2 linked regions of the Homo sapiens genome follow. The protein of the gene in region 2 interacts with the protein of the main gene of each other region in a pairwise test. Each region holds a gene or a part of one and is shown on either strand. Other genes may lie near its edges.

Region 1 (3,826 bases), on a different chromosome or scaffold from region 2:
CTAGTCTGTGGTTTGTAAAGTTTGATAATTATCACTTTTTTGTGATAAAAAGACTTACAAGCAAATGATTGTACAACCACACGATTGTCATGTAGATTAAGAGAGGCAGAATATGCTTGAACCAGCCTGGGTCAGGGTGAGCTCCATTTCCCTGGAGACTTGTACCTTTCAGGGCGGAACTCCTCAGGCTCTGTCCAGTACTTTGGGTCATGGTGAAGAGCATAAGTTGGAATCACCACCATTGACCCTTTGGGAATGAATACCCCATTGATTTCAACATCTTTCTTGCAAGTCCTCTCAAGTCTAATAGCAACTGGGAATAATCTGAGTGTTTCATTCACCACCATGTCAAGGTACTCCATCTGTACCACGGCATCATAGGTAGGTGGTGCCTGGAAGGAAAGAAACAGAATTGGATAATCTGAGATTTTGAATTAACTCTCAACTGAGTCCATGCAGTACTATTGAAGTATTAGAAGCTCCAGAGAATAACTCATACTGGTAAATGATCATAGTATTCGTGAAGTATTTTAATAACTGGCATGTCCATTGATGTGCTCAGTGACCTACTGAGATGTGTGGAGGAGTTATGAATGTAGGAGATATTCAAGACCATCCTCACCCCAGGGACTGAAATCCTTAGCATGACCATGTAGTGGTTTTTCTTTCTCATGGGAAGAAATGTGATTAATGGGGCTATGACCATTACCACCAAATAAAATACACCAAAGTCACTATCACCTTTCAAAAAGAGGTCACACATCTGTACCAAGAAAGAAAAACAGGGAAAAGAGCAAATATCCTCTTCACACAAGGATTATTGGTTGCAGAGTCCTGCTTGGTAACTCTTTTGAGGAGTTTGAGACCAGCTTGGGAAACATGGTGAAAACCCATCTCTACAAAAAATACAAAAACTAGCTGGGTGTGGTGGCGTGTGCCTGTAGTTCCAGCTACTCAGGAGACAGAGGCGGGAGGATGGCTTGAGCCTGGGAGGCAGAGTTTGCAGTGAGCTGAGATTGCACCACTGCCCTCCAGCTTGGGTCGTAGAGTCAGACCCTGTCTCAAATAAATAAATAAATAAATAAATAAATAAATAAATTTGTGGATAAACTTGTTCCTTTCTATCACAAATACGACAAAATAAATTTATGATTGGATGCTACCAAGGTACACAATTTGAGTTCTAGTTAAAGTTATGAAGAGAATAGAACCCCACACTCAGCCCCATCCCCTCCTTTTGGAATAGTTTCCTAGTTGTTGCTTCAGGGCTGGACTGTAATCTTCAGGACTGGATGTAAATGTCCCTTTGTGTCTGCCTCACAGCCACACCAGGGTCAGCCCCACAGGCCAGGTCTCTTCACACTAAAAAGAATCCCAGTTTGGGCAGAAGTCTGAAAACTGTGGATGATATGTACCTAGCACTTGGTGTTATATTTGGGAGGCAGTATTGTAGAGGGTTAGAGTTTAGCTCAGGAGTCAGATACCCTGGTTCCTAGCTTGGCTTCTTGGCCAGTGGCTACCTGACTGGAACATGAGACAGGTGTGGGGAGAGCTGAGTCAGCCTCCATCGCGCCCCCAGGGCCAGGCTACCTCAGACCATAGCCAGACCAGAGTGAGTCCAGTCAGTATCAGCAGAACTCACTATCCAGTCTTGTGAGCAATAAATGCTTCTCATTAGATGCCACTGAGGTTTTTGAATTTTTTTTTTTATACTTTAAGTTTTAGGGTACATGTACACAACGTGCAGGTTTGTTACATATGTATACCTATGCCATGTTGGTGTGCTGCACCCATTAACTCGTCATTTAACATTCGGTATATCTCCTAATGCTATCCCTCCCCACTCCTCCCACCCCAAAACAGGCCCCAGTGTGTGATATTCCCCTTCCTGTGTCCATGTGTTCTCATTGTTCAATTCCCACCTACGAGTGAGAACATACAGTGTTTGGTTTTTTGTCCTTGCCATAGTTTGCTGAGAATGATGGTTTCCAGCTTCATCCATGTCTCTACAAAGGACATGAACTCATCATTTTTTATGGCTGCATAGCATTCCATGGTGTATATGTGCCACATTTTCTTAATCCAGTCTATCATTATTGGACATTTGGGTTGGTTCCAAGTCTTTGCTATTGTGAATAGTGCTGCAATAAACATAAGTGTGCATGTGTGTTTATAGCAGGATGATTTATAATCCTTTGGGTATATACCCAGTAATGGGATGGCTGGGTCAAATGGTATTTCTAGTTCTAGATCCCTGAGGAATCACCACACTGACTTCCACAATGGTTGAACTAGTTTACAGTCCCACCAACAGTGTAAAAGTGTTCCTGTTTTCTCCACATCCTCTCCAGCACCTGTTGTTTCCTGACTTTTTAATGATCGCCATTCTAACTGGCGTGAGATGGTATCTCATTGTGGTTTTGATTTGCATTTCTTTGATGGCCAGTGATGATGAACATTTTTTCATGTGTCTATTGGCTGCATAAATGTCTTTTGAGAAGTGTCTGTTCATATCCTTCCCCCACTTGTTGATGGGGTTGTGTTTTTTTCTTGTAAATTTGTTTGAGATCATTGTAGATTCTGGATATTAGCCCTTTGTCAGATGAGTAGGTTGCAAAAATTTTCTCCCATTCTGTCGGTTGCCTGTTCACTCTGATGGTAGTTTCTTTTGCTGTGCAGAAGCTCTTTAGTTTCATTAGATCCCATTTGTCAATTTTGGCTTTTGTTGCCATTGCTTTTGGTGTTTTAGACATGAAGTCCTTGCCCATGCCTCTGTATTGAATGATATTGCCTAGGTTTTCTTCTAGGGTTTTTATGGTTTTAGGTCTAACATGTAAGTCTTTAATCCATCTTGAATTAATTTTTGTATAAGGTGTAAGGAAGGGATCCAGTTTCAGCTTTCTATATATGGCTAGCCAGTTTTCCCAGCACCATTTATTAAATAGGGAATCCTTTCCCCACTGCTTGTTTTTGTCAGGTTTGTCAAAGATCAGATGGTTGTAGATATGTGGCATTCTTTCTCAGGGCTCTGTTCTGCTCCATTGATCAATATCTCTGTTTTGGTACCAGTACCATGCTGTTTTGGTTACTGTAGCCTTGTAGTATAGTTTGAAGTCAGGTAGCATGATGCCTCCGGCTTTGTTCTTTTGGCTTAGGATTGACTTGGCAATGCGGGCTCTTTTTTGGTTCCATATGAACTTTAAAGTAGTTTTTTCCAGTTCTGTGAAGAAAGTCATTGGTAGCTTGATGGCGATGGCACTGAATCTATAAATTACCTTGGGCAGTATGGCCATTTTCATGATATTGATTCTTCCTACCCATGAGCATGGAATGTTGTTCCATTTGTTTGTATCTTCTTTTATTTCATTGAGCAGTGGTTTGTAATTCTCCTTGAAGAGGTCCTTCACATCCCTTGTAAGTTGAATTCCTAGGTATTTTATTGTCTTTGAAGCAATTGTGAATGGGAGTTCACTCATGATTTGGCTCTCTGTTTGTCTGTTATTGGTGTATAAGAATATTTGTGATTTTTGCACATTGATTTTGTATCCTGATACTTTGCTGAAGTTGTTTATCAGCTTAAGGAGATTTTGGGCTGAGACGATGGGGTTTTCTAGATATACAATCATGTCATCTGCAAACAGGGACAATTTGACTTCCTCTTTTCCTAATTGAATACCCTTTATTTCTTTCTCTTGCCTGATTGCCCTGGCCAGAACTTCCAACACTATGTTGAATAGGAGTGGTGAGAGAGGGCATCCCTGTCTTGTGCCAGTTTTCAAAGGGAATGATTCCAGTTTTTGTCCATTCAGTATGATATTGGCTGTGG
Region 2 (3,773 bases):
AGAGAGGCCAGTCAGGAGGCAGCCACATGGCCCGTGAGCAACAGTGAAGTTGAAGCTCCTGACATCACCTCAAACACGCCATGCTGGGGTGGCCCGAGGAGGCTGGCCCACTCCAGGGAGGCCACGGGACCAGGGCGGCAGAGGGAGCTCATCTCTCCGATCCATTAGTAGTAACTGCTTGGAGCATTGTCTGGAGCGGAATTCAGGCAGTGTAGGAGCCCCTGGAGAAAAAGAGCCACTGTTGATTAGTGATGTCCGAGGCAGGGCTGTAAGGAGGCTTGGCGGCATTCATTCACTCATCTACACATTCAGTAACTGTTCATTCAGTGCCTGTGTGCCAGCACGTGTGCTGTGATGCTGTCCTCTTCGCTCAGTTCTCAAAGACTCGGCCACATAAAGAGCAAAAAGGTCCAAGGCCAGGCTTCTCTCGGCTCTAAGCCCCTCTCCCTTCAAGCCTCTCCGAAGCCATATAAAAGATCACCTGGCCTGGGTCCTGTTTTCCCCAGGTCTTGAACAAATTAGATGCTTGGGAGTTATTTGTGGAAGGAAGAAAACAAAAATGAGTGAATTACCACATTTTCCATGTTTTATTCATTCATTCAGCAAAGAAACCAATATATACACTTTGCAAGAAAGCCGTTTCGAGGATCAGGGGTTGAATTAGATCCAAACTTTGATCTCCAGGAATTCATAGTACCATCTGAGATTAGACACGTACCCACAGTTCTGGAAAACACTGTCATTGTTTGTCTATCAAGTTCCTCAGGATGCCTGGCTTCAGGGAGGCAGGCATAGTTTGTCTGGGGTCCGGGTCACCAGAAGGGAGACATGTGGGAGGGCAAAACCTGGGGGCAAAGGGAGAAGCCAGCTGCTCCTCACAAAGCAGGGACCCTGTGCCCCGCTGTCTTCCTGGAACCAGGAAACAGAAAGCAGCTGTGAAGGTGGCAGGGCAGCAAGAGAGCAAGACGAGAACAACGGTACAGATCCACTCAAAGGGTTTCCTTGGAGATGTCTGAGTCTTGCTGTTTGTTGCCTGGGATGCTGGCAATGACCACTTCGTGGCTCAGGAAGCAGCATAGGAGGGAGGCAAGTGTAGCCCCAACTCCAGTCCCCTCGCCGGCTTCCCACGGCTGACCACAGCGCGGCCCCTGTCTTATCCTAATTAGCTGCACCTATGCCTCCGTCCAGGCTCACCGGCAAGCTCTTGAGCACAGAGGAGCTCTGTACCTGCAGCTCCCAACACAGTCCCTGCACATGGCAATGCTACCCAGTTCCCAGCCCCTGGGACCTGCCTACTCATGCCTCCACTAGCTGTGAGAAAGGGGAACTTGGTGGAGGTGGAGAAATCCAGAAAAAAAGAGAACAGCACAGAGCCTTGAAGGATGTGGCCATGGAGACAGGAAGGAGCATAGTGTGGGGGGATGAACACTTGCTCAAAACCTCACCTCCAGAATTTAACCCTCTCTTCTGGGATAGTCTCAGGCCAGACCCAGGAAGCAGCACAGTCTGTGGGCAGTCTTTGGAGAGTCTTGCAAAGCTTGGCCTGTGAGCTGAGATCTCCAACTCCCAGAGCCATTCCTTCTGGTTTTGTTCTGCAGAGAGCAGGAGGCTGGCACACACACACATGAAGATGGGTGTGCACACGTGGGGCTTCATGCAGACATACCCAGGAAGATCTTGCGGGTCCCTGGAGAGGGCCCCCTCATCCCTTTATGGCCTGTGCCTGGTGACCCAGAGCAGACAAGACAAGGAGAGTGTGCTACAAACATCCACAGGTGACTCTGTGACCACAAACCCAAGGCTGGACTGCAAAGTGCTTTCACAGGGCCCCATGAGGGCAGCTCCTCGTCATTTATATTTTGCTGAGGGTCTCCTTGAATGGCTGCTTGCATAAAAGTGTTTAGAAGACTGCCGTTGGAATCTGAATCTATCTGAAATGTAATTCCATTTTCTGGAAATGTACACGAGTGTGTGTGTGGGTATGCATGTGCCCATGAGAGAGAGTATGCATGTGTGTGCATACGAACACAAGTTGCTGTGCTGGAGAGGAAGCTGGGAAAGGAGAGGAGAGCATGCACTTTTAGTCATCCACATACATACATATGTGTGCACACACACACATCCACCCAGAGCCTGTCTCCCAAATCGATGGCTCAAAGTCACTTTCTTATCGTAGACCAGACCCCACTTAGACCAGCGGCTTCAACCTTGCCTGCACATTAAGATCACTTGAGGAGCTTGTAAAAATCCCAATGACCAGGCAACACCCTAGACCAATACATCAGAATTTCTGGAGATGAAATTGGGCATCAATACTTCATATCAATATTTAATATTTAATAATCTCCTTGGGTGATTCCAATTTCCTGCCAGCGCTGAGTGCTCCTCTGCATAGAAAGCCCTTTTCCTACTCCCCTGCTCAGAAAGCTTTTACTCACCATTTAAGACGCAAGTCCCATGGCTACTTTCCAGGGAAATCCTTCCTGAGAACCTCCCCAAGAGTTAGTTCTTCCTTTCCTGAAGCTCCCGACAACACCTTAGTCATCTGCTATAATCATAATTATTTGCTTGTCTACCTGTCTGTCCCACCCTCCGTACAGAACCCAGAGCTCCGTGATGCCATGCATGACACAAGATCCATCTCTTCATTCCCACTGCCTATCTTAGTGTCTGACAGGCAGCTGGTCATCAATGATGCTTCAGAATGAAAGGGAAACATGTAATGAAGTATGTATGCAGGAGGGGGATGGGAGGTGGAGGATGGGCTCTTTCTGGGTGGTAAGGCCATGGGTTTGCTCCCTTGGCAGCAGAATGGGGTACACTCCCTTTGGTAATAGAAATGGTCTTCTATGTCAACAGTTTGATGCTGGTCAGTCCACATGTCCTGCTGCCTTAGGAAGTGCCATCAGGGTTACTCAGAGGCTCCGAGGGACAACAGAGCAGTGCTGTTATCTGTGCCAGCTTCACAGGGTGGCTGAACCTTCCTAACAGACCCTCCTGGCCCCATTCCATGCCCACTCTGTCCAGTCTGCTTCCAGAGCACCTTTGCTCTGAGGAGTGCTCAGGGCCACCTGGGTCCCCTGTTTCTGTGCCAGCCTAGGGATCCAAGACAGCATGGACACTGTGGTCCTTGGTAAAGGGCCAGCCTGAGAAACGCTACTGCAAGGGGGGCTCCCTGCAGCCAGCCCCAGCCCAGCCCAGGAGTCTGAGCAGCAGAGACGAGAAAGTGACACTGGTGAAACCAAGGGACAAACTGTGTCCTGTATGGCTGCAGCCTCCGGTCCCCTCCTATCCCCCTTTCCTTGGCCAGCCCTGTCCCTTCTGCCTTGACAGTGCTCTCCTATTTTTTATCTTATCACCCCTTCCCCCAGTCCCAATGGGCCTTTATTGTCCCTACCTTAGGCCCGCTGAGGTGAAGCAATGTGACAAGGCCACACAAGAGACTTTGGGCTGGGACTGGTGATGGGGCTGGAAAAGGTTTGAGAGCACAGGATTTGAAGTGAGCCCATCCTGATTCGATGACTGGCTCTGTCACCGACTGACCCTGTCTACTTGAGGCCTCAGTTACCCCATCTGTGAAACGGGGTTAATAATAGGGGCCCCTATCTCATAAATCCATGGTACAGATTGAGTGCAGTGCGGACAGAGAGGGCTCCTCATGTGTTCCTGACCAGGCCTCCTGGTCACTAGTCCAGGCTGAGACTACTGTGGGAACCGCCCTCCACCCCCTTCCACACACAGACACACACACTCTCACTCGGACAGCGCCTGAT

Evidence for each region.
Region 1: the proteins of ATOH8 (region 2) and CYP3A5 interact in a two-hybrid assay, tested with the Homo sapiens proteins (one large-scale study listed by BioGRID and IntAct).

Annotation. Positions count from the first base shown.
Region 1 is NC_000007.14:99,652,388-99,656,213, forward strand, and holds part of CYP3A5 (cytochrome P450 3A5), read right to left. Parts: intron 393-3,826; coding exon 166-392; intron 1-165. UniProt on the Homo sapiens protein: A cytochrome P450 monooxygenase involved in the metabolism of steroid hormones and vitamins.
Region 2 is NC_000002.12:85,788,175-85,791,947, reverse strand, and holds the end of ATOH8 (transcription factor ATOH8), read right to left. Parts: 3' UTR 565-3,773; downstream 1-564. UniProt on the Homo sapiens protein: Transcription factor that binds a palindromic (canonical) core consensus DNA sequence 5'-CANNTG- 3' known as an E-box element, possibly as a heterodimer with other bHLH proteins.